Homo sapiens: one gene and its partners. The protein of the gene in region 4 interacts with the protein of the main gene of each other region in a pairwise test. Each region holds a gene or a part of one and is shown on either strand. Other genes may lie near its edges.

Evidence for each region.
Region 1: the proteins of FAM90A1 (region 4) and TRIM23 interact in binary tests that used the Homo sapiens proteins (3 or more experiments, as listed by UniProt).
Region 2: the proteins of FAM90A1 (region 4) and HMBOX1 interact in binary tests that used the Homo sapiens proteins (3 or more experiments, as listed by UniProt).
Region 3: the proteins of FAM90A1 (region 4) and FLOT1 interact in binary tests that used the Homo sapiens proteins (3 or more experiments, as listed by UniProt).

The regions. Positions count from the first base shown.
Region 1 is NC_000005.10:65,605,506-65,614,498, forward strand, and holds part of TRIM23 (E3 ubiquitin-protein ligase TRIM23), read right to left. Parts: intron 8,715-8,993; coding exon 8,593-8,714; intron 8,351-8,592; exon of another isoform or gene 8,222-8,350; intron 6,377-8,221; coding exon 6,098-6,376; intron 5,539-6,097; coding exon 5,356-5,538; intron 3,954-5,355; coding exon 3,738-3,953; intron 1-3,737.
Region 2 is NC_000008.11:28,961,947-28,970,939, forward strand, and holds part of HMBOX1 (homeobox-containing protein 1), read left to right. Parts: intron 1-1,864; 5' UTR 1,865-1,921; coding exon 1,922-1,944; intron 1,945-8,096; coding exon 8,097-8,573; intron 8,574-8,993. UniProt on the Homo sapiens protein: Binds directly to 5'-TTAGGG-3' repeats in telomeric DNA. Associates with the telomerase complex at sites of active telomere processing and positively regulates telomere elongation.
Region 3 is NC_000006.12:30,727,209-30,734,680, forward strand, and holds the end of FLOT1 (flotillin-1), read right to left. Parts: intron 3,893-7,472; coding exon 3,711-3,892; intron 3,520-3,710; coding exon 3,474-3,519; intron 3,358-3,473; coding exon 3,220-3,357; intron 2,979-3,219; coding exon 2,814-2,978; intron 938-2,813; coding exon 908-937; 3' UTR 501-907; downstream 1-500. UniProt on the Homo sapiens protein: May act as a scaffolding protein within caveolar membranes, functionally participating in formation of caveolae or caveolae-like vesicles.
Region 4 is NC_000012.12:8,218,767-8,224,618, forward strand, and holds the end of FAM90A1 (protein FAM90A1), read right to left. Parts: intron 5,450-5,852; coding exon 5,250-5,449; intron 4,792-5,249; coding exon 4,683-4,791; intron 4,019-4,682; coding exon 3,056-4,018; 3' UTR 2,494-3,055; downstream 1-2,493.

The DNA of each region.
Region 1 (8,993 bases), on a different chromosome or scaffold from region 4:
TCTGAGTGCTAGTTACACATTAATGATCAGTCTGAAAATTCAGCCAACTGAATACTTATGCATACATTTCTATATCTATGTTCTATGTCTATAAAAAGTTTAAAAATTAATTTCAGATATACATGTATTCGTTAAAAAAAATAAAGAATACAGGTCCACTCCTCAAAGTCAAGAACTTTCCAGTTTCTTGAATATTATTCCAGACTATCTATACATATACCAACATAGTCTTTATATGAAAGAGATCTCCCAATAATATGCAAGCTCCATGAGAACGGTAGTATTATCTGTTTTTGCTCACTGTTAGATACTCATGTTAGTTGACAGCAATTCCACTGTTTCAGTTGTTCAGGACAAACGCTGAAGTCATTATTGCTTTCTCTTTCCCGCATGCCCTACGTACAATCTGTTAACAAATCCTTTTGAACATCCAGAATCTGGGCACTTCTAATCCCCATTATCCAAGCCACTATTACCTCTCACCTGGAATTCTACAACTGCTGCTTAACTGTTGAATTCCTTCCTTCCATTTTTGCCTTCTTTCAATCTATTTTAGACACATAGGCCAGAAAAATCCTTTTAACATATAAGATTAAGTCACTCTTCTACTCAAAACTCTACAATGGTCCTATCCCAATCAGTAAAAGTTGAAGTCCACCCAAGGATGGTGGCTCACACCTGTAGTCCCAGCACTTTGGGAGGCCAAGGCAGATGGATCACTCGAGCCCAGGAGTTTTAGACCAGTCTGGGCAACATGGCGAAACTCTGTCTCTACGAAAAATACAAAAAAAGTAGCTGGATGTGGTGGCTTGCCCCTGTAGTCCAGGCTACTCAGGAGGCTGAAGCAGGAGGAACACTTGAGCCCAGGAGGCAGAAGGTATAGTGAGACGAGACTGTATCACTGCACTCTAGCTAGCCTGGGAGCAAGACCCTGTCCCCAACCCACTCCTCCCGCCCCCGGCCAAAAAAAAAAAAAAAACAATTGAAGTCCTTATAATGCCTCACAGGGCCTTCCTTACATATAATTCTCTATTAACCTCTGATTTCAGCTCCTATTACTCTGTCCTTCGCTTATTCTACTCCAGTCAAGAGGCCTATTTTCCTGTTCCTCAAACATACCAGGCATGCTGCCCTAGGGTTTTTGCTATAACATTTCCTCAACTACAATGTTCTTCTCCCAGTTACGGCCTGAACGAATTCCTTCAACTTTTTACTTGAATCTTTGCTCAAATCTCACCTTCCCTCAATAATGCTTACCCTGACTACTCTACTTATTAATGCAATCTGCTGTACAAACATAAACATGTAGTTGCAGAATTCTTTTTTGATTAGCTCTCAGAACTTTCTAACATATAGTATAATTAACTTACTTAGATATGGTTATGGTTTATTGCCTGTCTTCTTGCTAGAATGCTAATTTCACAAGATTATGGCTTTTTGCTTATTGTGTTCACTGATATATTTTAAATACATGGCATATGTTAGCTACTCAATACATATTTGCTAAATGAATAAATATTCAGCATCCAGTATCATGCCAAGAACTTTAGATGATGCATAATTTGTTTAGAGTGGATGGATGATTAAATTATGTTCTCAGAAGTGAAGATCAATTTGTGATGTTCCATCCATTCCTCTGTTCAATTTTCTCTGTAGTGGGAACTTTAAAGAACATTGGTTAGTATTCTGTAGTTATAAAATAGAACAAAACTAATAGGTCCATATGAAAAATGAATCCAAGACCTTGATTTTTTTGCATTAACATAGATAATACTGTATCATTAAAAATTACCAGTTGATATGGTTTGGCTCCGTGTCCTCACCCAAATCTCATCTCGAATTGTAATCCCCACATGTCAAGGGAGGGACATGATTGGATTATTGGGGCAGTTTCCCTCATGCTGTTCTCATGATAGTGATTAATCATGACATCTGATGGTTTTAAAGTGTGGCACCTCTCCTTTGCTCTCTCTTTCTCTCCTGCCGTCCTGTAAACAAGGTGCTTGCTTCCCCTTCGCCTTCCCCCATGATTGTCTAACTTTCCTGAAGCCTCCCCAGCCATGCAAACCTGTAAATTAAGCCCCTTTCCTTTATAAATTACCCAGTCTCAGGTAGTATCTGTAAAGCAGTGTGAAAATGGACTAATATACCAGTCATTTTGGCACAACACTTCAGAAACTCTAAAATACTTAAATATTTCAGTAACTATGAACAAACTTTTTCATAAAATAAATATGAAAATACTTTTAAGTGTTCAAGTAAATATGATTTAGGACATGACTCCACTCTGATTTTGCTATGTAGCTTCATTATCCGCCATGAGTTAAACATGTATTTATTAAGCTCTTTCTATCTAGATGCAAAGAATTTAGTGACACAAAGATGAACAAGATGCATCAAAGATGAACAAGGTCAGCATCTAAAACACATAGGCATATTGTGTCATTCAAGGTCAAATCGGAAGACACAAATCACACCATTACTTGAATAGAAAGAACTTAAAATAAAAACTGTTAACTAGGTGTAGTTATTAACTAGGTAGCTAAAAGGTTAAAAGGAACTCTGAGGTATTAAGGAGGTAGCAATTGTATGAAATAACATAGCTACCACTTCCAGTGCTAAAGGAATAAAAGGAAGAAGTTAGAATTATTAAAACTTAGAAACTTGCAGGAGTGGCTCATGGAGCTGAAACTCAAACCTCCGAGAAGGGTGGTCTCCTCACATGAGTAACTATGCCCCCTCTTGACAGTACCTAACATGGGCCCAGCTGGCAACACAATTATGAGGTCTGTAGAGTTCTAGCCCTAGTATCACAAAATAGAGGATAGAAGAGTAGGTTTGGAGCTGAAAATCAACTTAATAAATAGCATACATATCAACTGTTACAATTCAGTGTGGTAAGGACTAAATGATAACCCAAGACTGATGAGGCTATAGACTGGCCACTCTCATGTAAGTGTAATCACATATTTAAGAGAAAAAGCTCTACAATGGTACAAGGCTTAGCCTACAATGATTTGAAATCAACACAATTATTAGCAATATATCAGTGAAGATAACACAGACTGCAGCTTTTCTGAAATTCCTAGGGCAATAGTTATTCTTATACCTCACACTTATGAAAACAGATCCAAAACACAAATGGGTAAAGCTGACATTTGTGTTAGAATAACTGAATCTCATTTATTTAAAAAAGTAAGTCATCTGCAAACTGGGTAACAAATTTCTTATGGTATCTCAACCATCACAAAACATACGTTTGCTCTAACAGTGAAGAACCACTGAATTATAGCAGACGTAGGCAGTACATGGTAGAGAGGCACTCAAAAAAAGACCAACAAATAGAAAGCTTCAAAGAAAGGCAAATATTTAAGCTGGACCTTGAAGGAGAAGGAAGATTTCCACTATTAGAAAAGAGAGATATATGCACTCCAAGCAGAAAAAAAAAAAAAACTACATATATGCTTGGCAAAGAAGAGTAAAAGGATTTGGCATAACTGAAGAATGGCAAGAAGTTAGAAGGCCTCAAGAACCCATGGCTTATGGTGGGAAAGGCACGTGAACGACACTGATAATTCCATACTAGTGAAATAATTCAAGGTTGCAGACCATTTCCTAAGCACAAAGTTACTGCATACAGCAGACACAAAATATTAATAAAACACACTAATGTATACCTCTGGTAATTATCTACTTAAACTTACAACTAAGTCCCTAACCACATTTAAACTACCTACCTGCTGCAAAGTCTTTTCACAGTGGAGGCAGGCTGCAGAAACCTCTGACAACAAAATAGTCATATCTTCTTGTTGCTGCCTGAGCCAAATCAATTTTTCACGAACATGAGCATCAACAACACTTAGAGCCATTTCTTCTTGACGACACAGAGTTTCATGTAGATCATAAAAATAAGCTCGAATACATGACCGGGCATTCTCTGCAGTCCCTGGTACCTAAGAAAATGAAAATAAATTTTAAGCAACTGTAATGTTAATAAAGATTTTACCTGTGAAATATTTAAAATTTCAGCCTAGGCAACATGGCAAAACTCTGTCTCTACAAAAAATGGAAAAAATTAGCCAGCCGTGGTGGCATGTGCCTGTAGTCCCAGCTACTCAGGAGGCTGAGGCGGGAGGATTGATTGAGCCCCAGAAGTCAAGGCTGCAGTGAGTGGTGATCACAACACTGCATGCCAGCCTGGGTGACCGAGCGAGACATTGTTTAAATACCATCTATATTAAATTCCAAAATATAAATCTCCATGCTAGATCTTTCCCCTAATGCACAGACATTGGAAATTCAACTGTTTATAAATGACATCTCAAGCAAAATGGAATGCCTAATCTCCAGTCTCCCCTATTCCCAAACCTAATTGCCTCTGTCTTGGTAAATGGCAACTCCATCCTTCAGGATGTTGAAGCAAAAACAACCGGAGTCATCATTATCAGCTCTCTTTCATAGCCCACTAGTCCCTCAGCAAATTCTGCTGACTTCAAAATACACCCAAAATCTGATCATGCCTCATCACCTCTAAGTTACCTATCCAATCAATATTAACAATTAATCACTAAGACCTATCTATTCTACTTATTTAAAATCTCAAATCCATTGACTTGTGTCCACTCTCACTACCCTAGTGTATTATAGGCCATAAACATCTCTAGTATTTTAACTAGAAAACTTTAACAACATCCTAATAGGTCTGCCTGCTTCCAATTTTGTTGCTCCTCCAATTCATTTTCTACATTTAAAACAACCTTTCTTGAGGAAAATCTGATTATATCATTCCTAAGTCAATTCTTCAATGGCTCATCACTGTCCTTAAACTAAGTTCTGAACTCTTTAACATGGCTGACAAGATCCTGCATGATTTGGCTTTGAACTCTCCATATCCTCTTTTCTTGTCATGTCCCATTCAATACTTAAAGCTCTAACTACAGTGAGCTTCTTTAAGTCTCTACAATATGTACAATCCTCACTTACAAACATTTTAACATATTGTTCCCTTCTTGGGACAACTCATTCCCCGTTCTGCTCTTTTCCCTGACTGAAATTCTTCAAATCTCAGTTTAAACACCATTTCTTCTATAAGGACTTCTCTGACCTCCATAAATCATTGTCCCTGTTTTGTGATGCCAAAGCACCCTGTACTTCTCCTCCATAAAATAGTTACCATATTTCAAACTCTCTCTTTTCCATGATGAATGAGTTCCTGAAAGACAGGGACTTTTAAAAAACTTTCTAATGATTGGTGCAATACTGGCAAATTGTAATTGCCCATTAATTACTTAGTAGAAGGTGAAAATATGAAAAATAAAAAAGAATGAGAAAGTGAAGAAGAAAAAAAATCCATACATGTTCTGTGTGAGCCATTCCAATTCCATCTTCCACGATTTGTTCTCCTCCTTCAATGTGCTGCACAATTCCAACTAATTTTCTGGAATAATCTGAGATTTCCTCTGTGAAGGTCCGTATGCAGTGAGCCATATCTAAAATTGATGCTCGGATCTGATTAGCTTCTGGTTCCAATACTGAATGCTATAAAATGTACCATAATTAGAGAAAAGAACTCATAGTATTGACTAATAATATAAAAAACTATTTAAATCCCTATTAATACAAAAAAGCATCAGCCACAAGTGACTTTTATGACACAGAAAAATACTAATTTACTTTCACTCCTTTATAAGAAAACTGTACTGCAAAGAAGTAATTTAAAATTTGGAAGTCCGTTTATTGCTAAACAAAAAACCAAGAGACTATCTCTAAAATCATATCCTAAGTAAGAGCTAACAGACATAAATATTGTCAAAACAATCTGGTGCATTATGAAAACATGCAAGCAAACAGAATGTTTGTTTCCTGCTCGAAAGCTATTTTTTTGTGAAGAATCATGATGCCTCTTTGAAGTTTTTTTTTTTTTATAACATTCAGAAATTAAATCTCTCATTTATTTTCATGCTACCAAACCCAATCACTCATCACTTAACTCTTCTTCAATCCCTACTTTCAGAATAAAGAACCAGGTCAGTGAAAACGAATACTGAGCTGGTAAAGTAGCTACAGTGATCCAACTGATTAATAATTAAATTCATACCTTGTGACCCTGGTGTTTTCCATATTCTTTGCAGACACAGCACATGAGTGGGCTAGTTTGACAACCTTCTTCCAAGCAAACAAACTCAATGGCATGCACCTGGTGCTGAGAGCACATAGTTTTCTCATGAGGTTTATCAGCTAGAGGAACTCGCCTGTGCTTTGCTAATGTCTTTGTAGAATGAGTAACTTGAGAACACTCAGAGCACAAATGAGTTGCACACACAGTGCAATATACAGAGGCAAGGTGAGCTTCATCTTCATCACAACGAATGATGCTCTGATAAACAAAAAATTAATGCCTTAAAATTGAACCCAATCAGTATAACATGACGAATTTTTAAATATAGAATCCATAATCCTTTTTGCTTAACTGAACAATATTTACATATGAAAATATATTGGTCATTAAGAACAAAGGTCATTCAATACTCATCTGAGAAGCATTCATTTCTAGGGGTAAGAAGCTATTTCCAAGATTAACTGGCCAATATATGTTATGAATTTGAAGCCAAAAATAGAACTATTCTCATAGATTCATATTCGGTGCAAAGATCTCTTCCACCAAATCCCCTCACTTTACACAAAAGAAACTAAACCATAGAGAAGTCAAAAGTCTTTCTGTAAAACTACAAAAATCTGATATTAAATACATCCCCATAGCTTTAAATATTAGTTGTCATGATGATGTATAGGAAGGACAGAAGCACAAATGCTATTTAGAAAATGTAGGAGTATGCATCAGAATTAGCTGTAAGCTTTTAAAAACATAGCTGTCTGGAAGAGAAATTCTTATTTCAACAGGTTGTGGATGAACCCTAGACTTGTATATATTTTTCTAATTATACGCCATGTTATTTTAATAGCTCCACAGGTGAGTCTATTGCACAATCACGGCAGAAAACCACTGATTTAAGCAAATAAAAAAAAAAATAGGCCAGGCTCAGTGGCTAACATCTGTAATCCCAGCACTTTAAGAAGGCTGAGGCAGGTGATCACTTGAGGCCAGGAGTAAGAGACCAGCCTGGCCAACATGGGGAAAGTCCATCTCTACTAAACATCCAAAAATTAGTCAGGTGTGGTGGTACATGCCTCTAATACCAGCTACTCAGGTAGCTGAGGCACGAGAATCACTTGAAGCCAGGAAGTGGAGGCTGCAGGGAACTGAGATCACGCCACTGCACTCCAGCAAGGGTGACAGAGTGAGACTCTGTCTTAAAAAATAACAATAAACAAATAAATAAAACCTATATGTAAGCATGTAAATATTATTTCTAGTTTTCAGGAATTACAAAAAATAACTAATTATGAAATAATTACTTTTATTTCAAGTAGATAAAAAATTACATGTCAGATAATCAAGAATGTTTTGAACACTTTTACTCAATATTAAAAGGCCATAATTGGAAGGGGAGAAATTTAGTATAAATTTTTTCAAAAATAAAAATGTTTAAATACATCAATGGTGTCATTCTTTATCACATTAAATAAAAAATGAATCCAAAGTGGAAGAGTTTTGTTTGCAATTATGAGAAATAAACACATGTACCATAAAAATTCAGGTCTTCTGTTTCCCAGACCTGACAAATAAATAAATTATAAACTATAATGTCAACATTAGCTAACAGTAATGTCTTTTGAAATAAAGATTAAAGATTTAGCACAGAAAGAACTGCATAACTTTTAGAAAACAGAGTGTTGCAGTTTGAAATTCATTTCACTGATTCACTTTAGTATAAAGAAATCATCATCTAATGAAAGAGAAGTGAAAGCAATCCGACATTTTTTTTCCTTCATACAAAATATGTGGTTTGCAAGTTGATCACCAAAATCATTAACTGATATTTACTCCAAATATATTTTTACCCATAACAGCCTACGAAAGCCATGTCCTATAGTACATATGTGCAGCTATGCAAACACATAAGTGCTAAAAATATACTTTTACATTATTAAAATCCAGTGTTCATGGATTCTGATATTTACTAGACATCTACCTGTATGGATAAAGACAGTACATCTATACAAAGTTTAACCTTTTCTTGAAGCTATAACAGTAACAATTCCCTCAGAAGTTACTGCTATCTTTAAGGCATTTTCCCCTCTGTATTAAATGGCCTCTTACATCGAGTTTTTCTTTCTCTCATTGAGTTTTACTGTTGACTACTTTTGCATCCTCTTCTCTACTGTTGCTTACATATCTTTCTTACTATTCCATAATCTTCTTCCTCTTTTCACTTTATTCTTGGTAGAACTGAATTATGATAAGGAAAAAAAAGTTCACACATAAAGCATAGTTTAGGCATAGGATTTTCAAATAATTCTAGTTTTTTCTCTTGGGAATAGTGTTGGCCTTCAGAACTGTAATGTAATGAAAAGTTGTGTTTCTAGAAATTTACCTGCTGAAATAAATGAAGTAATATTGTGCTAATAATGGCATCTATTAAAAGAAAAATTCATGCTCGTAACAAATATTTCACCAAGTATGATCAATACCTCTCCAGATATCCCAATGGATTCTTCTGCAGCTCCATACTGACCAATAGGCCCATTCTGCAGTCGTTCCAAAAGCTCCAATAAAGCAAAATTTTTTTTCAATCCCCAGACACCTGAATCACCTAGAATAAATATAAAAACAAAAACTAAATCTAACAAAATGGACTATTAATCATTTTACCCATACCTCAAAAGTAATTTCTAATATAGTTCAGTAGTTAATGTCTAAATTTTTAAAATTCAAATTTTCCCCATTTTTAATACCAAAATAATTGCTTTGTTAATGCTCTCTTAAAAAACAGAAGAATCCTTCAGCCTTCCAAGTAGAAACACACTTTAAAATTTATTATTTTTTGGCCAGGTGCTTTGGCCCACGCCTGTAATCCCAGCAGTTTGGGAGG
Region 2 (8,993 bases), on a different chromosome or scaffold from region 4:
ATCATGTTGCCCAAACTAGCCTTGAACGTGTTGCCCAAACTAGCCTTGAACTCCTGGCCTCAAGTAATCCTCCTGCCTCAACCTCCTAAGTAGCTGGGATTACAGGTGTGAGCCATTGCACTCAGTGTGGATGTGATCTTAATACCCATTTTTATTTAGTTCCTGATCTGTTTTTAAAATAACTTGAAAACATCTGTCAATTAGAAAAAAATAATCTGTCTCCTCTGCCAGAAGAGCTTTATGAAATTGAGAGAATTCATAACATCTTGTTTGCTTGGTCTTCTGTTTTTAGAACATTCCTTTTTTTGTAGAATATTTTAAGCCCATTTATGTCTGAAATATAACTGACATAATTCAGTGTCTTATGGTTACATAAATTTGTATCAGTGACTTAATCTGTTTTCCTGTCTGTGAAATGAGGGTCTTTGATGATAACTTCCTAGCATGGAAGTTGTCAAAGGATCCCCTCTAGAAGGGGAGCCTGACCTTTTTTCTGTATTCATGGTGCATGCTACATGCTAAACATGCTACATGTAAACGTGCTGCATGGTTCTCATGATTACAGAATAAAGGTCAGGATCCCCTTCTAGATCATCTACTCCTCACACATACTGTGTTAAAGGCCAGCAACACAAGCCTACTAATTCCCTAAATAAATCTCATAATTTCTTTTCACTGTTCCCTCTTCCTGGAATCTTTCCTCCACTGATTCTCACCTCCCTCTACACCTTGATGTTGTGGAAGTCTTATTCTAATCCTCAAATAACAGCCAGATTTCACTCTAAGAAATCTTCCTAGTTCTCTCTAACCTGAATTAGTTTCTGGATTGTTACTCATATAAACGTTGTATTTTTGGTCTTTTTTTTTGTATTATATTTTTTATTTGAGAGGGGTGTGTCTATAATTTTTGTCCCTAGTCTCTATTCTCCCCACCTCCCGCCATTTAATGAACTCCTAAGCTCCTCTACTGTTGGGACCATATCTTACTCATATTTAGTTCTTGTGTCTATGCCAGGGCAAGCAGGTGCCTCATATATTTTAACTGAATTTGAGCAGGTAGTGAAAAATGTGTTTGTGGCCCAGGCTAGAGTGTGATGGTGCGATCTCGGTTCACTGCAACCGCCGCCTCCCAGGTTCAAGTGATTCTTCTGCCTCAGTTTCCCAAGTAGCTGGGATTACAGGCATGTGCCACCACCCCCGGCTAATTTTGTATTTTTAGTACAGTTGGGGTTTCGCCATGTTGGTCAGGCTGGTCTCGAACTCCTGACTTCAGGTGATCCACCCGCCTCAGCCTCCTAAAGTGCTGGGATTACAGGCATGAGCCACCACGCCTGGCCTGTTTTTAAGTCAACAAGAAAATTATCTACAACAGGAACTTCATTAGTGCTACAGTTTAGAATATACAAATATGAAAGGTTTCTAACTTTACCTTGTACATTTTGCATATATCATTAGTCATTGTTGGACACTTTGGCCATGCTTAATATAATTCAGTACTGAATATGTATTTCAATGTGAGAGTTTTTGACATCAACATTTTTAACTTTTGTCTAATTTATAATCTTAGAGTTAATGGAAATCAGTGCCTCTATAACTATGGTTTTAACCAGCTAATAAGTTGTCTTCATGATCTTTAGCTTCTAAACAATGAATAGTAGATACCATTTTTTGTTAAGATCTGTGTCTGAATTGAAAGGGATCAAAGTGTATGGTGAATAAAGCAGTAGAATGCAAATCAGAAGATATAATATTTAACATGATTAGCTAGTGTTAACTCTTGCTGTCCATCAGTTACATAATTAAAATTTTTATTCAGCACTTGATTAACATAAATGTTTCTCAATTTTCTATCTTTGTTCTACAGAATGGTAGATAACGCAGATCATCTCTGGAAAGGATATTGATCCGCCTCATGTAAAGTATGCTTAGTTCCTTTCCAGTGGTGTAAGTATCAAGTCCTTTTTGATTTTTATCTTCACAATCATTTTAGTAAAGTTAAGATGTCACTATGATTATGATCCAGATTTGACAACAGACGTTTGTAGAGTTGAAAAGCTTTTTTAGAAAATGAATCAAATGTTATACCTATTTGACATTAAGGTGAATAAGTGTCATGATCATGTGGTGAGAAATGAATTTTTAAATCTATCAGCCTTCTCTTACCATTTCTGTTTTCAACTTTGAATTTTAACATTAATTTTAAATTGAATATAAAATTAATTATTATTTTTAACTGCTTAAAGCTTAGAAGCATCCAAGATAGATGACTAACAGTTCAAGAGAGCTAATATTAGATTCCTTGTGACAAGCAGACTACTGGAAGCATACATCTTCATGTTGCCTTTTGTGTAAAAACTCCTAGCACCTTAACCATTTTCCTTTACCTGCTGGGGGCATGATGATGTAGTTAAGCCTATTAGCTGATGTGCTAGCCTTTCTTTGGAGTCAGGCAGAAAATACAAATTGAGATAGTGGTATTGTGTTGAGAGTGTTTTTGTGCTAGGATATGAACTATAACCACCAGTTCATATTAAATAGGCCTTTGAATAAAAGTATTCCGGGAATTTCAGATATTAGAGAAGACAGAGTATCTATTAGCTCATTAAGTGCATCTTTAGAGTCGAATGCAGAGTGCCTTTAGCATAAGTATTTTCTAAAATTTGATGGAGTCTCCACTTTGCTTAAATTCCTTCCGTTTTGGTTGACAGTTCTATAATACAGTAAGTAAACATTAAGAGAGATTTTCCTTATTATTTAGGCTTTTCATTATAGTTCCCCCACCCCCACCCCAGTAGATTCTATGATATAGTGAAAAGTTTCTGGAACAGACCTAGAAGATGTGAACTGTAGCCCGACTTTCTGCTAAGTAGCTATATCCTTGGGAAGGCACTTCACCTCTTTGGGCCTTAGTTTCCCTCCCCACTTTTTAAAAAAATTTATTTGCTAATGGCTATTTTCAATCTATCAGCCTTCTCTGTTACCATTTCTATTTTCAACTTTGAATTTTGACATTAATTTTAAATTGAATATAAAATTACTTATTATTTTTAACTGCTCAAAGCCTAGAAGTTTCTGAGATAGATGGCTAAGCATTCAGGAGAGTTAAGACGTCTAATGGCTATTGAAAATAGTAAGATGTCTAATAGTTACTGAAATGAATGTAAGCATCATGAAGCCATGAATTTTTGCCTGATTTGTTCCTTGTTGTGTCCTCTGTGCCTTGCACAGGATCTGTTACATAGTAGGCATTCAATAAATGTTACTTAAATGAATGATTTTTGTCTAAGTGATCTCCAGTTTTCTCATTCCACACCTAACTTATATCTCCCTTTATAAATGTGCATGTTTGTACTTGGATTTTTGTCACATATGGTAGAAATAAGATGATCAAAGTATGATTTCATGAATCACAGTGTTTATTGCCATACAAAGAGAATTTTTTCTTGGGTTCACAGTACTTAAAGATGGGGAGAGTAACATAGACAGACTTCACAGGGAATACACTCAATAGATGAGGTACATTAACCACATTATGAATGTGTTCCAAAGCTATTAAAGTGTCTTTGCTCAATTATGATGAAAGGAGGCCTCTGTGTTCAAGTGAAGGCTAAAGGTGGAGGTGTACCTTTACATGAGCAGTTCTTGGGAGAGGCTGGCTTGACCACCATAGCTGAGATCTGAGACCACAAGGAAGGCCCCTCAGTGCTAGAAAATGCTGGCCTGCAAGGTATAAAAGCTTTGAGGCCTGTTGCAGCCTGAGCTCTCTGGTTTTGGAGAAGCTGCTGACAGAGAGTAGCCCTGCCACAGCCTAAGCTCCCAAAGTGTCTGTTAAGCTCTTGAGTGTATATGTATTTTGAAGTCCAGTAGTTGTGACAGTAACTCACATATGCAGTTTGACATGAGGTGACATTCCTGAGAGGATGGAGAGTTCTCTCTCTGATAAAAATATTGTGATTGACCCTAGAGTGTGTTAAATTAGCATGCAGTAAATATCATGTATGCAAAACAAAACTAACCTATTTTGCCTAGTCATTCTAGATAATAAAAATAAAGACAGCAGAATTGAGCTGAAGAAAAAGCTGTTATCCAATAAAATTTTACTGTTGGTGCTTTACAAGTAAGATAGTAATGTCCTTTTTACCTCTGTGATTTCAAGATTAATTATTTGTGAATGCTTTAATCTTCTTTGCTCTACATGTTTGTAGAATTTAGCTTATGAAAGTATATTCTAGACCTCATGCCTTATCCAAGAAGGGTTTAGGTACATATTCAAGTCAGGATAAAATGTATTGTGAAAAGTTATTATTATGGTCTTATGGTATGATATTTTCTTAGAATATCAGTTTATGAACTGAGCCATAATTCCTGAATTTAATTGTTCTTTTATGCCTTAAACACTGTCTGTTATTACAGTGGTGAAATTCTTCTCACATCATTTTCAATTATTGTTGGCCTGAGTCTGCATTCAGATTAGTAATTTAAAGTGAAAGATGTTCCTTATCCTCTGAACAATCCTTGTGCATAAGAAAATTAATTCAATTCTTACATGTTATCTTTTTCTGTTATAAAAGAATTGCTGGTATCATGGACTTAGATGACCTTTGTAGGTCATTTACTGCCATAAATTCGTGATTATATGCTTAAACTAGGTAAATTATGAGAAATAAAATTGTGAAATGCCGGAGTATATGCCTTTGTTTATATTAATACACATTGGAACATTATTCTCAATATCCAGGAGAGCTTCTAGACTCAGCGTTTTCTCAGTAAAATATTGTATCTTCAGTGTCACATGCATGCTTTGATCCTGTTTGTTATGCTCTTAATCACTTTGCTTTGTAGTGATCATATGAATGATCATTCTAGCAATTGTGGATCATTTTGCTTTAGGTTATATTTGCATTAGGAAACTCTCAGTGCAGGGCACAGACATCTAATTTGAACAAGGTGATACATAAAGGGAAATGTATTCTCTGATGAAACAAAACAGCAAGAAGAGCAGGGATATATCAGGGGCTTAGGGATTATTGGAACAAGGGATGTGAGTGCTGCAGAGCTTTCTCCATCGCTCTGTTCCACGTTTCTTGGTATGTCTGCTTCTTCCTCCCATGAACTAGCTGCTTCCATATAATGAGGAATTTACCAGACTAATATCTTCCTGCAACTGAACACAGTTATGGTGACTGTTCATCTTTCCCCTCGTCTGACTAGAAAATTATGGGGAGAGCAAGGTTTGGCTTTCTTCTGTGCTCACCCCACTGGCCAGAAGGTGGGGTATTACGAGTGATAGCCCAAGAACATGTGCTTGGAAAGAATGAGGTGTTCTAAGCAGACAAAGTAAATAGGTGGCCTATTGTTTCTCCTTTTATGACTTGGAATAAAAGTGGTTCTAATAGTCAATGAATCTGAAATGACACAAAATATTAGATTGTTTCATATGCTGTGAAATCTTTAGTTTTGACAATTCTAATTCAAGTGTTAGGATGGATACTTTTCAGTAATAAGTGAAATTCATACAATTTACTTTTGCTTTATGCTAATACAGAGTGCTGCTCCATACAAGGAATGGTTTGAAGAACTGTATATAGATAACTAACTGCTCTGATATGAATACTATAGGAAAATACTATGATTGGGGATTTTTGTCCATATAATAAAACAGTTATTGAAGTCATCTAAAGTAAGATCACTTTATGAAATACTTTGATAACATGAAGACTGAAAATAGCAACAAACAGGTCTACTTCATTTTCAAGGGAAAATAATAATGTTTATGTTTAATTTTTTTCATTACAAAATATTGTGGGGGAACTTAGGCCATCAAGAAAGAATATAATAATCATGAAAATAGGTCTTTTTAAAATCATGGCTAACTTGTTACAAGTGAGTATTGGAAGAAATCAGACCCTAACATTTGTAGGTGTAGAGCAGATACTGTGGCCCATGGGCACAAATGGCCTGCAACATGTTTAGGTCCACAGAATGTGTGTGTTTGGTTTTGTTTTATTTTTATGAGCTTGTTTTAAAAACCAGGAAGATTTCATCTACAGTTCTAGATTTTTCCCTACTTATTTTTAAAAGGATTTGAAAGATAAAACAATCAGTGAAATGGAATAGACTATCCAAAGGTAATGCAGATTCATATGGAAATTGTGTATATGATAAAGGCAGCATTTCACATCGGAGGAGAAGACAGATATTCAGTAAAAACATACGACATCTAGCTGTCCATTTGGGATGAAATAAAGCCCCAATTTTTTATACTTGTTAAGTCAATAAAAATTCTAGATGGAGCAAGGATTTTAAATGTAGAAAACTATTACTAGGACCCCTAGGTTCATCAGTAATTAGAATAGTTTTATCTAAATGGCTTTAAATGAGACTTAAAGGAGTAGAATAGCCTGTGTGCCAAATCATATGTTTCCAGTTAAGTCCTGCAATGTATTGTAAAGGAGAATGATGTGTGCTTTTGGAGTCAATAAGATCTAGGCTTAAATCTTTTTCCTACTGTTTACTCAGATTTTTTGTGAAGTACAAAACTACACTGAGCTTTAGTTTCCTCAACAATCAATCCATCAACATAAAATGAAATGAATAAAGAACATCTACCATGGGGAGTTGCTGTGAGAATTGGATGAGATTATGTTATGTGAAATTCGTACCCAGTTCCTGCCTAGAAGTGACTGTTAATAAAGTTTTCATGTAGAAGGACAAAGAAACAGTGAGACCTTCAATAGCTATAGGACACTGGCCCAGAGCAGATGTTTGTTTGAGAAAGATGAAGAAATTTCTTGACATCTGTTTCCATCTGCAAACACTTATTGAGAGCCTACTGCATGCCATGCATTATATTTGGCACTAGAACAATAAATATCAAAATAGAAGAGATTACAACTTTAAAAAATCTTGAATGGAAAACTCAGGTCTTATAAGAAAGGAATTCAAGGCCGAGCATGGTGGCTCACACCTGTAATCCCAGCACTTTGGGAGGCCGAGGCGGGCGAATCACCTGAGGTCAGGAGTTTGAGATCAGCCTGGCCAACATGTTGAAACCCCATCTCTACTAAAAATATAAAAGTAGCCAGGCTTGGTGGCAGGTGCCTGTAATCCCAGCTACTCAGGAGGTTGAGGCAGGAGAATCGCTTGCACCCAGGAGGTGGAGGTTGCAGTGAGCCAAGACTGCGCCACTGCACTCCAGCCTGGTTGACAAGAGCAAAACTCTGTATCCAAAACAACAACAACAACAACAACAAAGGGATTCAAGCAGTGAGAATTTTTATAGTATTTGACTACTCCCTTAATATTGTTACTCACCCTAAGAAAACATTTTCTGATGTGCTGTAGTATCTTGTGCTAGTTAAAGGAAACATGTAAAAGTAATTTCCTAAGAAAAATGAATAGCATTGTTTGGCTACAACCATGAAAGATCTATTTCTCAGGGTAGCTATTAAGAGAGAATGCATTACCAGAGATGGAAAACTTAGGAAATTGCTAAGTAGTGAATGAAATGGTGCTTATTTTTTTTTTTAATGTACCTCTGTTTTCCACTTAAGTATTTTTGCTGGTTATTAGCATTTGCTTGGACTTAGCTTAGCAAATCATTTGTTCTCACTAAATGAGGTTGTAGAGAATTCCTAGGTCTGTTTAGCTAATATTTGGTAAATAATATAATACAAACTATTTTTTTCAGTAATTTTCCATTAATACTCTAATGTAGAGTAATACACTTGAGATGGGCAAAACACTTCTGAGTTATCACGTAGCCTGGGCTTATTGCACTCCATGTACCTAATCTATTGTTCTGGTATTATTTACATAACTAAAATTTTGGTTCTGATATTTACCAAAATTGAGGAAAATGTAAATTGTATGCCATATGAAATTAGGTTTTATGTTACACCTATGTTCACCTACTAATACATTTAGTATCTGTACCAATCCATTTGCCATGGCACAATCATTCTAGCATGGGACATACCTTCATTTTCAATACAGAAGCTTATGTAGAAATATTGCATCTTCTGAGCATTCTGTATAATATGTGCTTTGGTAGATACTGTCAATAAAGAGACTTCTTTTTATCTCTTTTTTTTTAGTTTGCTGGAAACCATGTCTCATTATACAGATGAACCCAGATTTACCATAGAGCAGATAGATCTGCTTCAGCGACTTCGGCGTACTGGAATGACTAAACATGAAATTCTCCATGCCTTGGAAACTTTGGACCGTCTTGATCAAGAGCATAGTGACAAGTTTGGAAGAAGGTCCAGCTATGGAGGAAGTTCATATGGGAATAGTACTAACAATGTCCCAGCATCTTCCTCTACAGCTACAGCTTCCACACAGACGCAGCATTCGGGAATGTCCCCGTCACCTAGCAACAGTTATGATACTTCCCCACAGCCTTGCACTACCAATCAAAATGGGAGGGAGAATAATGAGCGATTATCTACATCCAATGGAAAGATGTCACCAACTCGCTACCATGCAAACAGCATGGGTCAGAGGTCATACAGTTTTGAAGCCTCAGAAGAGGACCTAGATGTAGATGATAAAGTGGAAGAATTAATGAGGTTAGTGACTTTGCTTATTCAGAGTCCCTAAAAATGTCTGTATTCTTAGATTGTTTTTAAGTAGTATGCTGCGTTTCAGCTACTTAGCTATAAGAACTGTAACTTCCTCTAGCTATAAGAACTGTAACTTCCTCCTCCCACCTTTGGAGATGAAAGAAAGAAAGTTCAAGCTTTATGTTTTTAATTTAAATTTTCTCTTCTTTACTTCAGCCCTTTCTCTTTGCTGCTTGACAAGCCTTTTCCATTCTGTTTATCAAACACTAATCTTCTCTATGACTCTAATAGCTAATTTCTGACTAACAGACACATTCTAATCCTTAAAAATCTGTTGTAAGTACTTTTTCTGAGGGATAATTTTATCTTGATCAGAATATGTACACTCTTAATTTTTCTGTTCAACATTCCAATCAAGAAAATAAT
Region 3 (7,472 bases), on a different chromosome or scaffold from region 4:
AAGCTACATTCTAGCATTCATTTTCTTTCTAATAGAGCCAGGATCTTGCTTTGTCACCCAGGCTGGAATGCAGTGGTGTGATCATGGCTCACTACAGCCTTAGACTCCTGAGCTCAAGTGATCCTCCCACCTTAGCCTCCCAAGTAGCTAGGACTATAGGCAAGAGTCACCATACCTGAGTCTAGCATTCATTTTTTTTCTCTTTTTTTTTGAAACAGTCTCACTCTGTCACCTAGGCTAGAGTGCAGTGGTGCGATCTTGGCTCACTGCAACCTCTGCTTCCCAGGTTCAAGTAATTCTCCTGCCTCAGCCTCCCAAGTAGCTGGGACTACTACTTGGCATGTTTCACCCTGCCTGGCTAATTTTTGTATTTTTGGTAGAGACAAGGTTTCGTCATGTTGGCCAGGCTGGTCTTGAACTCCTGACCTCAGATGATCTGCCTGCCTTGGCCTCCCAAAGTGCTGGGATTACAGGCATGAGCCACTGTGCCGGGCCAAGCATTAATTTCCAGTTGCTTCTGTTTTATTAGTACTTACTTACAGCAATTTATTTGGGTAGCAAAGTTGAAAACCTCCAGCCCATCCCTCAGTCTTGGTCAGGAAAATATTCTAGACAACAGGCTCAAACAGTCTGATTTAATTAGGAAGTTAAATAAGTTGAGGTGGGGTGGAGTGGGATCATCAGAAGGCTGACATGGGACCGCTGGAGTTGGCAATCATAGCAGTGTGAGGTTGGCAAGGGGAGCAACCCCCTTCAAGACAAGGCACAAACTATTTGGCAAGGAGAGATGAGGGGTGGGACCTCACTGTCAATGGACATGCTCAGGGAGGCCAGTGGGTTACATGCAACAGGAGGATCATTCAGGCAACTTCAGCTATGAGGCTGGGCATCTGTGAGGGCTGAAGGCTCAGGCTGTTCTCAAAGGCTTGTGATTCACCTGGCAAAAAGACAACAGTAGATGACACTTGGGAACATTCGGGAGGCTGAGGCCCCTACTCTCCCGGGCCCCAGTTTAGACGAATGGGCTATAGGCAGAACACACACGGCCAGGGTTCTTTCTGGTGCCCTACCACCTGTTTCCCCAAACAAAGACATCAGGACCCACATACAATAAATCACTGAAGAGAGGAGAGGGGGCAGAGCCTTGTTTGCACACTCTCCTTAGCTCTGAATATTCTACTGCAGGCCTCCAGGAGGCTCCAAGGAACCCAGCTTGAAGGTCATTGGTATGATCCAGTGCTTTTATTTACATACGCTTTTTTTTTTTCTTTTTTTTTTTGAGACGGAATCTCACTCTATCACCCAGGCTAGAATGCAGTGGTGCGATCTTGGCTTACTGCAGCCTCCGCCTCCTGAGTTCAAGTGATTCTCCTGCCTCAGCCTCCCGAGTAGCTGGGATTACAGGTATGCGCCACCATACCCAGCTAATTTTTGTATTTTTGGTAGAGATGGGGTATCACCATGTTGGCCAGGGTGATCTCAAACTTCTGACCTCAGCTGATCGTCCACCCTGGCCTCCCAAAGTTCTGGGATTACAAGTGTGAGCCACAGCACCCAGCCCGAATATGCATTTCTTTCTCTTTTTTTTTTTGAGACAGAGTCTTGCTCTGTTGCCTAGGATGGAGTGCAGTGGTGCTATCTCGGCTCACTGCAAGCTCTGCCTCCCAGGTTCACACCATTCTCCTGCCTCAGCCTCCCCAGCAGCTGGGACTACAGGCACACACCGCCACGCCCGGCTGTTTTGTATTTTTAGTAGAGACGGGGTTTCACTGTGTTAGCCAGGATGGTCTCAATCTCCTGACCTCGTGATCCGCCCGCCTCAGCCTCCCAAAGTGCTGGGATTACAGGCATGAGCTACCGCGCCTGGAATTTTTTTTTTTTTTTGAGATAGAGTCTTATTCTGTCACCCAGGCTGGAGTGCAGTGGTGTGATCTCAGCTCACTGCAACCTTCGGCTCCTGGGTTCCAGCAATTCTCCTGCCTCAGCTTCCCGAGTAGCTGAGATTACAGGCATGCACCACCAAGCCTGGCTAATTTTTTTTTGTATTTTTAGTAAAGATGGTGTTTCACCATGTTGGCCAGGCTGGTCTCCAACTCCTAACCTCAGGTGATCTGCCTGCCTCAGCCTCCCAAAGTGCTGGGATTACAGGCGTAAGCCACTGCACCTGGCCCCATTTCTTTAACATACACATAATGCTTACTATATACCAGGCACTATTCTAAACACTGCAAATATTTGCTCGAGCCCCTCAACAATTCAACAGGGTAGTTTCTAATTATTAACCCAATTTTAAGATGAGGAAACAGGTATAGAGAGGTTGATTACTTGTCCAAGATTACAGCTAGCAGGCATTGTAGCTAGGATTCGCAACAAAACAGTGGTTCCAGAGCCTGTTTGCTGACTTCTACCATGATCTACAGGTGAATTAACTGGGGCGCTGAGAAAAGCAGTGATATGCCCTAGAATTAATTAACTGTCAATAGGCTGCAACTAGTTCCCTATACTAGTGGGGTGACCACAAGCACAGGTTGCAGAGACAGTCGACCTGGATTTCACTCCAGCTGCACTAGCAGAATGAGTAGGAACATGCTGGATGTTGAGTTTCTGGACTTTGTAAAATCCTATATACCCTAATGGTAGTTTGATTTAAAACAACTCATTTATGTAGAAGCTTAGCACTGTGTCTGGCACACAGAAAGTGATTAATAAACATCAATGACTCCCAGGCCTGGATGCTGGTTAAATGCTAGGCATACTGTGTCACACAACACAGGAACCTAGCAATTCTCCTCAGCTCCAACCTGAGACCTCACCTGGGAGATGCTCACGCCTGTGAGTCTTTCCACACTCTCTGGCAGGCGAGTTAGAATGTCCAGTACTTCCCCAGTCACTTTGGCTGCCCCCATGGTCCCACTGCCGCTGGACACCAGTGTGATCTTATTGGCTGAAGTCAAGGGACCACTGATCTCCTCTGCCACCTGGCAGGAGAGAGACACCCACTCAGTGCCCATGATCTGACCACATTCCTCATAAAACAACTTACTCTGGGTTTTAAGGTCCTCGTTCCACTGATCATCCTTCCTCACTTTGGTCACTAATAATTCCCACCCCTAATTTAGAGTCCCCCTAGGCTGTTTCTCCCTAAGCCCCTCACTACACCCCACCCCTTAGTCCCTGGTTCTATTTCCTCCTTTCTTGGTGCCCACATGACCTCCAGACCTGGGGCAGCTTCTCTAGCAGCATGTCCAGCTGAGCAGCCTCTTGGTACAGCTGGAAGGCTTCTGCCTTCTTGGCCATCTGCTCAGCCTCGGCTCGGGCTCGGGCCCCTATGGCAAAGGCCTCAGCTTCCCCACGCATCTGAGGGTTAAGGATGCTTGTGAGATTGACGGAAATCATTAAGAACAAGAAATCCCCGATCAAGCAGCAACCCCCACCCTCTCCACAAGCCAGCATGGAACTGCCTCTTAACTCACCCGCACAGACGCGGCTTCTGCCTCCGCCTGCATAATTAGTTGGGACCTGTGGACAGAAGGGAAGTGGAGGGTGGAGCCCAGCAGCCCTTACTCCCAGGAGAAAGGCCCAGTGCTGCAGAGGCAGACGCTCCTGAAACCTGAAATCCATAGGAGTCCAGGTGGTGAAGGCTTCAGCACTCCATCTTGGGGTGCCTAGGTGGCAAGTGAGCTAGGCAGGGTCAGGGAGGGGACATTTACTTCTCTGCCTCGGCTAGGCGCTCCAGCTTGTAGCGCTCCGCTTCCGCTGGCTTCCGCACCCGGGCCTCCAGCTCCTTCTCCCGCCGGGCGATCTCCTGCTCCTGCACTGCCACCTGCTGGGCCCGCTCCACCACCTGCACCTGCACCCGCTGCTCCTCAATCTGCTGCTTAGTCTTGGCCACCTGGGTAGGAGGGTGAAGTCAGGTTCACGCTCTGAGTCAGAGGTGAAGAGCAAGTGCCCGGGAACCAGAGCTCCAGAGTGGGATATAAAAATAGGAGCCGGTGGCCGGGCGCGGTGGCTCACGCCTGTAATCCTAGCGCTTTGGGAGGCCAAGGAGGGTGGATTGCCTGAGTTCAGGAGCTCGAGACCAGCCTGGCCAACATGGTGAAACCCTGTCTCTACTAAAATACAAAAAATTAGCCAGGTGTGGTGGCGAATGCCTGTAGTCCCAGCCACCCGGGAGGCTGAGGCAGGAGAATTGCTTGAACCTGGGAGGCGAAGGTTGCAGTGAGCTGGGATCACGCCACTGCACTCCACCCTGGGCAACAGAGTAAGACTCCATCTCCAAAAAAAAAAAAAAAAAAAAAGGAGCAGGTGCATGAAGGTGGGTTCCCTCCTGTCTGCTTGGCCAGTCCAGTGGAGTCCAGTGTTTCTCTGATGAGCCCCCGTTTAATCTATTTTTCCCACGTGTGCCCCCTTCTAGAGTATAAATACCTTGAGGGCACTGAGCACATGTTGGCTTTCTGCTATCTCCAGTCTTGCTCAAATCCCCCCACTGTTGCTGCGATAACCTTAGTGCTAGCCTAGGCTACTGCAATAGCTGACTTATTTTTTGTGGGGGTGGGGACAGGTGATCTTTTTTGTCTTTTGCACATGGTGCAGATTTAACAGAAAAAAAAGTGAACCACGAGGCTTCTTCCTCATTCTCCAAACCACCTGGGTCCCTTTCCCAGAGAAACCACCAAGACCAGCTTCTTGTGTATCCTTCCAGGGATACTCTGAACATCTACAAGAATGTGTGTATTCATAGAATTCCTCTTATTTAGGCAGATTTCTTTCTTTTTTTTTGAGGCAGTTTCGCTCTATTGCCCAGGCTGGAGTGCAGTGGCACGATCAGCTCAGTGCAACCTTCACCTCCCAGGTTCAAGCTAATCTCTTGCCTCAGCCTCTCAAGTAGCTGGGACTACAGGCATGTGCTACCATGTCTGGCTAATTTTTGTATTTTTTTTAGTAGAGACGGGGTTTCACCATGTTGGCCAGGCTGGTCTCAAACTCCTGATCTCAAGTGATCCATCCGCCTCAGTTTCCCAAAGTGCTGGGATTACAGGCATGAGCCATCGCACCCAGCCTAGATTTCATCTTCTTATTCCTTGCAGTGTGAGGGAATCAGAAGGCTCTTATCAAGATGCTAGTGAGGAGAGGTGCCAGGCAAGGAACACATTTTTTTTTTCTTTTTGAGACATCATCTTACTCTGTCACCCAGGTTCAATGGCGTAATCATGGCTCACTGCAGCCTTGACCTGCCTGGGCTCAGATGATCCTCCCGCCTCCCCCTCTAGAGTAGCTGGGACTACAGGTGTGAACCAGCACACCCGGCTATTTTTTGTACTTTTTGTAGAGACAGGGTTTTCTATGTTGCCCAGGCTGATCTCAAACTCCTGGGCTCACGTGATCCACCTGCCTCGGCTTCCCAAAGTGTTGGGGTTACAGGCATGTGCCATCACACCCAGCCAGAACACATGCCTTCGTTGTCCCATTGCTCAGGCTCAGCCATGCACCATCATCATTGTAGGTCTCATCAATACATGTGATGCTTCCCCTGCCTCCTACCTTCCCCCGGGCCCATCTGTTCACTCCAGAGAGAAGCATAGCTCTGGAGACGGCACTCTGTACTGTCTTTCACCCTAAATTTTCAAACCCGTTCCAAACTGGCCTCGTTGCCCTCTACACCGGTGTGCAGGATCACCTCTCTCCTGTGTCCCTTAGGCAACCATTTGTCTGTTTCTTTTTCCTTCCTGTCTATGCCCACCTTTTGGTGAAACTCAACCTCCAGAAGCTTCCTCAGAAAGAATATAAAGACAATATTTTTTCTGAGGTCTTGCTTTCTCTGAGATTTTTATTCTACCTTTTTTTGAGATGGAATTTCGCTCTTGGCACCCAGGCTGGAGTGCAGTGACGCAGTCTTGGCTCACTGCAATCTCCATCTCCCAGGTTCAAGCAATTCTCCTGCCTCAGCCTCCCATGTATCTGGGATTATAGGTGCCTGCCACCACGCTCAGCTAATTTTTGTGTTTTTAATAGAGATGGGGTTCCACCACATTGGCCAGGCTGGTCTTGAACTCCTTATCTCAGGTGATCCACCTGCTTCGGCTTCCCAAAGTGCTGGGATTACAGGCGTTAGCCACTGCACCCGGCCTCTACCCTTCTATTTTAATACCAGTTAGGCTGAAAGCAGGCTGCTATGTTGGGATTAACTTTCCATCAGAATTCTGAAGGCATTCCTCCATGGTTTTCTAGCTTTTTAAGAAATCTGGGCTTGGGCCAGTCATGGTGGCTCATGCCTGTCATCCCAGCACTTTGGGAGGCTGAGGTGGGCAGATCACCTGAGGTCAGGAGTTCATGACCAGCCTGGTCAACGTGGTGAAACCCCGTCTCTACTAAAAATACAAAAATTAGCCAGCAATGGTGGCACATACCTGTAGTCCCAGCTACTTGGGAAGCTGAGGTAGGAGAATCGCTTGAACCCAGGAGGCAGAGGTTGCAGTAGCTGAGATCACGCCATTGCACTCCAGCCTGGGTGACAAGAGCAAAAATCCATCTCAAAAAAAAAAAAAAAGAAAAGAAAGCTGGGCTTGATGCAGTGGCTCATGCCTATAATCCCAGCACTTTGGGAGGCTAAGGTGGGAGGATAACTTGAACCCAGGAGTTCAAGACCAGCCTGTGCAATATGGCAAGATCTCACCTCTAGAAAAAAATTTAAAAATTAGCTGGGCGTGGTGGTGTGCCCCTGTGGTCCCAACTACTGGGGAGGCTGAGGTGGGAGAATCACTTGAGCCTGGGAGGTTGAGGTTACAGTGAGCCTTGTTTATGCCACTGTATTGGACAACAGAGCAAGACCCTGTCTCTGAAAAAAAAAAAAAAAAAAAAAAAAAAGGAATCTGAAGTCATTTTGAAGCCTGCCTCTTTGAGATCTCTCTCTCTCTAGAAGCTTTCATATTTTTTGTCCTCAGCATTCTTAAGTTTCACAGTGTTATGTTTCAATGTATATATTTTTCATTCATTGCATTGGGCACTTAGTAGACCATTTCAATCTAAAACCTCATTTTTATATAATTTTTCTCAGAATGTTTCTGCTCCCAATAAGTCATGCCACATTTGCATGTGCTTGACTTTTTTTTTTTTTTTTGGAGATGGAGTCTCGCTCTGTCACCCAGGCTGGAGTGCAGTGGCATGATCTCATCTCACTGCAACCTCTGCCTCCCAGGTTCAAGTGATTCTCCTGCCTCAGCCTCCCGAGTAGCTGGGACTGCAGGCGCGTACCACCACGCCTGGCTAATTTTTTGTATTTTTATAGAGTTGGGGTTTCACCGTGTTAGCCAGGATGGTCTCGATCTCCTGACCTCGTGAGCCACCCACCTTGGCCTCCCAAAGTGCTGGGATTACAGGCATGAGCCAACACCCCTGGCCCTGCTTGACTCTTATTAGTCCCTTTCCCTTACTTCCCTGCTTCTTTCTGTGGGGTTTTATTTTTCCCCTTTGTC
Region 4 (5,852 bases):
AACATCAAAAGTTTGCAAATACAAGCCGACGGAAAATAAATACATGAATTCTACCACAGTGAATTGGACCGCACTGGGAAACACAGATGAAGAAAGTCAATACCGCTTTGTCCTTCAGTGCCTGGCTCCTTTTTCAGCTCGTCTTGCTACTCTAGGCATTATGCCTGAAAAGTCTCCCAGGTGCCTGTGAGGCTCTAATTCCCTGGGTCCCATTGCCATGTCTCTGGATTTGCGAAGATCCACCGGACCTTCTGTGGAACTCCCGTGTCGGTGAACTTTTGTGCCACGTCCCCTAATTCTGCCCATGGTCATCTGCAGCTGCACGAGTTAGGGTCGGTGTTCCTTGGACGGGAAGAGACAGGCAGGAGTCGGAATGCTGAACCAGCACACTGGGGCGTTTTCTCATGTAGCCCAAGTGACCCAAGGTCTTCTTGAGCTTTGGAACCAGTCGCGTCCCACTTGACACAGCACCCGACTCCCAGTTTCTCAATCGTGTTGGCCCTCCGGCGATCTCCCGTTGGATGAATTGCACAGGCTGAAACTCGAGTCCCCTTTGATTTGCGCTTCATTAATTATTCATGATTCAGGTTGGAAGGCCTGCTGACGACCCCCTGTGGCCGTTCTCTGAGCTTTCCTGTCACATCGTTTCCTTCCACGCTCTTTGGTTCCTTGTGGTCCTGCTCCTTCTGCTGTCAGAGGAGCAGAGAGTTGATCTTATTGATTCTGGATACGGATACTTTCTAGGTGATCTGGATAATCAGGATAACGACCCTCAACAGCGGCGGAAAGGGAGCAGCCATTTGGTGTGTCTCAGAAAATCGCGCTCAGTTCCGAGGCCTCCTAGATGTGGAATCCTGCTCAGAGTTGTTCCCAGGTCAGAGAATGGAGAGAGCCTGGGCATGATGGGATATCCCTGCCTAGATCTTTCAGTGAGTCTCTACCTCAGCTACTCTTAGGATCAGGGGGAGAACCATGGAAAGGCCCGGTGTCAGACATCCGGAAAGAAGATGGGATGAATGTTTTACCTCTGAAGTACATCCCAAATCTGGGAGTTAACTTCAGCTTTGCTGGGCTCTATTTGGCCAGTGAAACTCTGCCTGGTTCATTCGCACATCCGGAAGCCACTTCACGGGGGGCCGTCGCAACTGGAACCACACACTTGGCATCGGCGGTTGAGCCAAATGGGGACTCGTGGTGCAAGCAACGCTCCCCACGTGTTAGCGTGCGTGAGATTCAGTTGGCGGAATTTTACTAGGTGTGTGTTGGTAGAGTGGGGCTGAGGTTTTCTTGCTCCTGTGGATGTATACGAAGTCAAAGGTCCTGCCCAGCCCTGCGGTCCCCTCAGTCAACTCTGTTTCAGAGACATAACGATTTGGATTGAGAACAAGTCAAGAAATTTTCAAGCCCTTGGATGTAGGGAAAAGAAAGAGAGATCAGACTGTCACTGTGTCTATGTAGAAAGGGAAGACATGAGACTCCATTTTGAAAAAGACCTGTACTTTAAACAATTGCTTTGCTGAGATGTTGTTCATTTGTAGCTTTGCCCCAGCCACTTTGCCCCAGCCGCTTTGACCCAACTTGGAGCTCACAAAAACCTGTGTTGTATAAAATCAAGGTTTAAGGGATCTAGGGCCGTGCAGGACGTGCCTTGTTAACCACATGTTTACAAGCAGTATACTTGGTAAAAGACATTGCCATTCTCTAGTCTCAATAAACCAGGGGCACAATGCACCGTGGAAAGCCGCAGGGACCTCTGCCCTTGAAAGCAGGGTATTGTCCAAGGTTTCTCCCCATGTGATAGTCTGAAATATGGCCTCATGGGATGAGAAAGACCTGACTGTCCCCCAGCCTGACACCCGTAAAGGGTCTGTGCTGAGGTGGATTAGTCAAAGAGGAAAGCCTCTTGCAGTTGAGATGGAGGAAGGCCACTGTCTCCTGCTCGCCCCTGGGAACTGAATGTCTCGGTGTAAAACCCGATCGTACATTTATTCAACTCTGAGCTAGGAGAAAAGCTGCCCTGTGGCGGGAGGCGAGACATGTTGGCAGTAGTGCTGCCTTGTTATTCTTTACTCCACTGAGATATTTGGGTGGAGAGAAACATAAATCTGGCCTACGTGCACGTCCAGGCATAGTACCTTCCCTTGAACTTAATTATGATATAGATTCTTTTGCTCACATGTTTTTTTTGTTGACCTTCTCCTTCTTATCACCCTGCTCTCCTACTACATTCCTTTTTGCTGAAGTAATGAAAATCATAATAAAAAAAACTGAGGGAACTCAGAGGCCGGTGCCGGTGCAGGTCCTTGGTGTGCTGAGTGCCGGTCCCCTGGACCCAGTGTTGTTTCCCTATACTTTGTCTCTGTGTCTTATTTCTTTTCTCCGTCTCTCATCCCACCCGACTAGAAACACCCACAGGTGTGGAGGGGCAGGCCACCCCTTCACTTGGAAAATCAGTTAAACACAAACACGGAATGAAAGTCAAAAGACAATATGTCATCTTTTTGAGAATTTTATTCACTTCAAAACAAATTCAACACACCTATTTACAAAGGGATTCCAGAGCCCACTTTTCGAGGCTGAGGAAAGACCCCGAGAGCGCTTTGCACAGCGCGCTTCCCAGCGTCCGAAACACTGCTCTCAGGGCGGGGCACAGCGGAAGGGCTGCACCTCTCAGGGTTCCCTAACTTTTCCCTTATTCAGTCGTCTAGAGAGCAAATACACAGTAATTCCCCCGTTTCCTATTGACGTCCCAGCGGAAGTCTGACTCCTGCGCGTCATGCAGTTTCTGAGGCAACGAATCACTGGCACGGAAGCTTTTCCTGGCGCGTTTCCAGAGAACCATGCGAACTACAATGTCCCTCACCAGAATTCAACGTGGCAGAGTCCCTGCATCTGCTCCCTGCCTGGCCTGGGCTCCCACATCCACAGAAGGGCCACAGCCGGGGAGCTTCGGAGTCACCGCACAGAGTCTGCTCTCTGCTCTGTGCTCCTCAGTCCCACAGTCCCCTCCAAGTCACGGGAGCTGGAGGCCAAGGAGCCCCTGCCACCTGCAGTCTCACTCCAGGTCAGAATCGCTGTCCTCTGAGGAGGAGGGAACCTGAAGGTCCTCATAGAGGACGCTTGGTGGGACACGAACACAGGGACCCTCAGACTTCTCTGAGACATGAGGGCTCTGAGCGAGGAAGGCTCCCGGCTTCTCAGGAGAGTGAAATGAGGGGGCCGTCAGCAGGCTGGAGCTCCAGCGTCCGTTTTCCAGTCTCCGAAAGAGCACTCTGAGAGGCTGGGCCCCATCATGGCTGGCCGCTGGGTGATGGGACATGGTGCAGGCCTGGGCAGTAGGCAGGCAAGGTCTGCTGTGCGGAGGCTGCCGGTCGCCGCTAAGCACCTGGGCGGGTGTCCTCGTGCCTGTCTGGGGTGACGTACGTGGTCCAAGTTCGGTTGCGGCTGGCGGAGGTTGGAGATTCTCCGGGGCCCCCAGCTCACCTCCCTGGATGGCGCTTTCGGGGATCTGGAAGGGACCCAGTCTCGGTTTCTTGGGGAAGTTCAGGCAAGCCTGAATCGGAGCCGGGGCAGATCTCTTGGCTCCTGGCCCGAAGCTGAGATTGGAGCCTAGGCCCAAGCTGTGTGTGGCGGCTGGTGGGCAGGGCTGTGAGGTCACCGCAGGACGTTTGTCTTGTGCCTGGGGGCTGACGGCCTGGAGCAGGCCGTGGGTTTTGGAGGCAGCCTGGGGAACTTCTCGACAGCCACCCGCAGGGCTGCTGTGTGTCGGCTTCACCACGAGGAGAGGCTCGGGGCCCTGGTGCCTGACTGCAGTCTGAGGGATGTCGGCCGCAGCCCCTGTCTGTCTTTCCTTTGGTCCAAGACTTGAGGAGGAGCTCAGACTGGCTTTTCTGAGGGGAGACAGTGAAGCTAAGACGGAGCCCCTGTCAGACATTTCGGTAGCTGAGCGATCAGAGAGGACAGGGTCCACACGCGGCCTCTTACTGGTTGTGTGGACCGGCATTGGCCCGCTTGCAACCTGAAAGAGAGGAAACAACACAGGTTAGAAGTTCCTCAGCATGGAGCCAACATGAAAATCAACCACATCCAAAGACAAGGTGCACACGCCATGAAATTCTTAGTACACTATCGACAGGCGGTCCTTGGAAGTAGGGACAGACCCTCCACCTGAGTGCTGATCAGGACAAGACACATGAAAGATGCGCTCTCGAGCTATGTGTAGCTGATCTAAGCACACCATTGTTCAAAAGATTGCGTCTTAGGCATTAGCTGGATCAAAGCGCCTCCACTCAGCCTTCCATGAAGTGGAACCGACTGATGCCCTTCCGAAGGCAGGTTGGTGGCTCAAGGGTACTCAGGACGTCTTCTCTGAACATATGCATGTTCCTGGGTTTAGCCTTCTCCACGTTTGGGGCCTCTGAGGGACTAATTTCCTCATGCCGCTAGGAACGTGTTGTTGGCAGGCTTGCCATAATTGGACAGAAAGAAAGCAACAGGAAATACGGCATCTTCAGATGCCTTCGCCTGGAATCAAATTGACCTGGAAGGATCGTGGAGTGTCTGACCCCAAGAAGGCAAGAAAGAGGGGTTCCCCGATTCCCTCCCGCAGACGGGAAGCTGAAAGGAAATCAACCAGGGTGACCTAGAGGAGAAAAAGACCAGGGGCCCAGGGTGACCCTCACCCTCAGATAATCAGAAGATTCCGTGGATCCTTTTTGATTTGGCAGCGGCTTCTCTGGAGGTTTCCTGGAAAATATGTGGAGGAGAGCCTTCCTCTGCGGGTCTTGTGGCCTGCAGAACAGAAAAAGGTCAGGCCGTCCTCCCTGGTTTTCCCCAGGAGACGGGGAGAACCCTGTCTGGGGCCCAGTCCCATTCCGTGTTTTGTGATACAGAAATGGACATCTGGTGCCCTTTCCGCCTCTGCACCTTCCCTCACGTGCCAACCTTCCCATCCTCCAGGTGGCCCTCTAGGCTTCCCAACTAAGGACTGTGATTTGGATTCCATCACTTTTCCCCCTGTCGTGGGGAACCTGCACGAAGCGCCCCCGCCCCTCCCCGTCCCTGAATCTCCCAGAGCCAAAGGAGCTCTTGGGTGTGGAACTCCGGAAGACACAGAGCTCCGGTCTGTTTCTCTGCAGCGTTCCTTCCCTGGCCCGGAGACGGAAAGGCACACGGTGTGCAGGTGCAGAGACACCATGTCCTTAGGAGGCAGTACCCTAAGAGTGGTGAAAACCACTCCCACTGCTCACCTTGGTCTCTCTTCCTTCTCTCCCTTATCCTTGTTCAAGGGCCCAGGGTTCGCTTCAACCTGGGGCTTCCATGGTTTCAGGTTTTCCTTCCCTTCCTTTTCCCCAAAGTTCGGTGGAACCAGGGCTGCCTTCCAGCACTTCATGGGGCACCTGGTACTTCTGGCCGTGTGGCCAAAGGCCTCACAGTTTTTGCACTTGAGCTGTGGGTGGAAAGGAAGTGATGTCAGTGAGTGAGCTGAAGCCACAGGCACCGATCCCACGTCAACATTGAGACGGATTGTGAATTCAGAGCTGAATAAGGATTCCAAAGAGGGGACACCGGCATGGGGGCCGTTAAGTGCTGGGAGAGTTCGGATACGATGTTCCCTCCCAAAGCCCATGTGACGGAGGAACTCTAAAAGGCAGGACTCAAGGTCCTAAGGGGCACGATGGTGAACCCGATGTCAACAACACAGCCAAACGTGGCTACACAGGACTCTAAGTAGAAAGGGAGGTTGCCCCCAAGAGTCTCTCAAGGGGCCTATCGGGCCGGGGAGGAGGTCCCAAGCCACGCCCACCTTGGATGGGAAAAGCAACCTGGGTGGTGGTGACAGAACTCTTTGG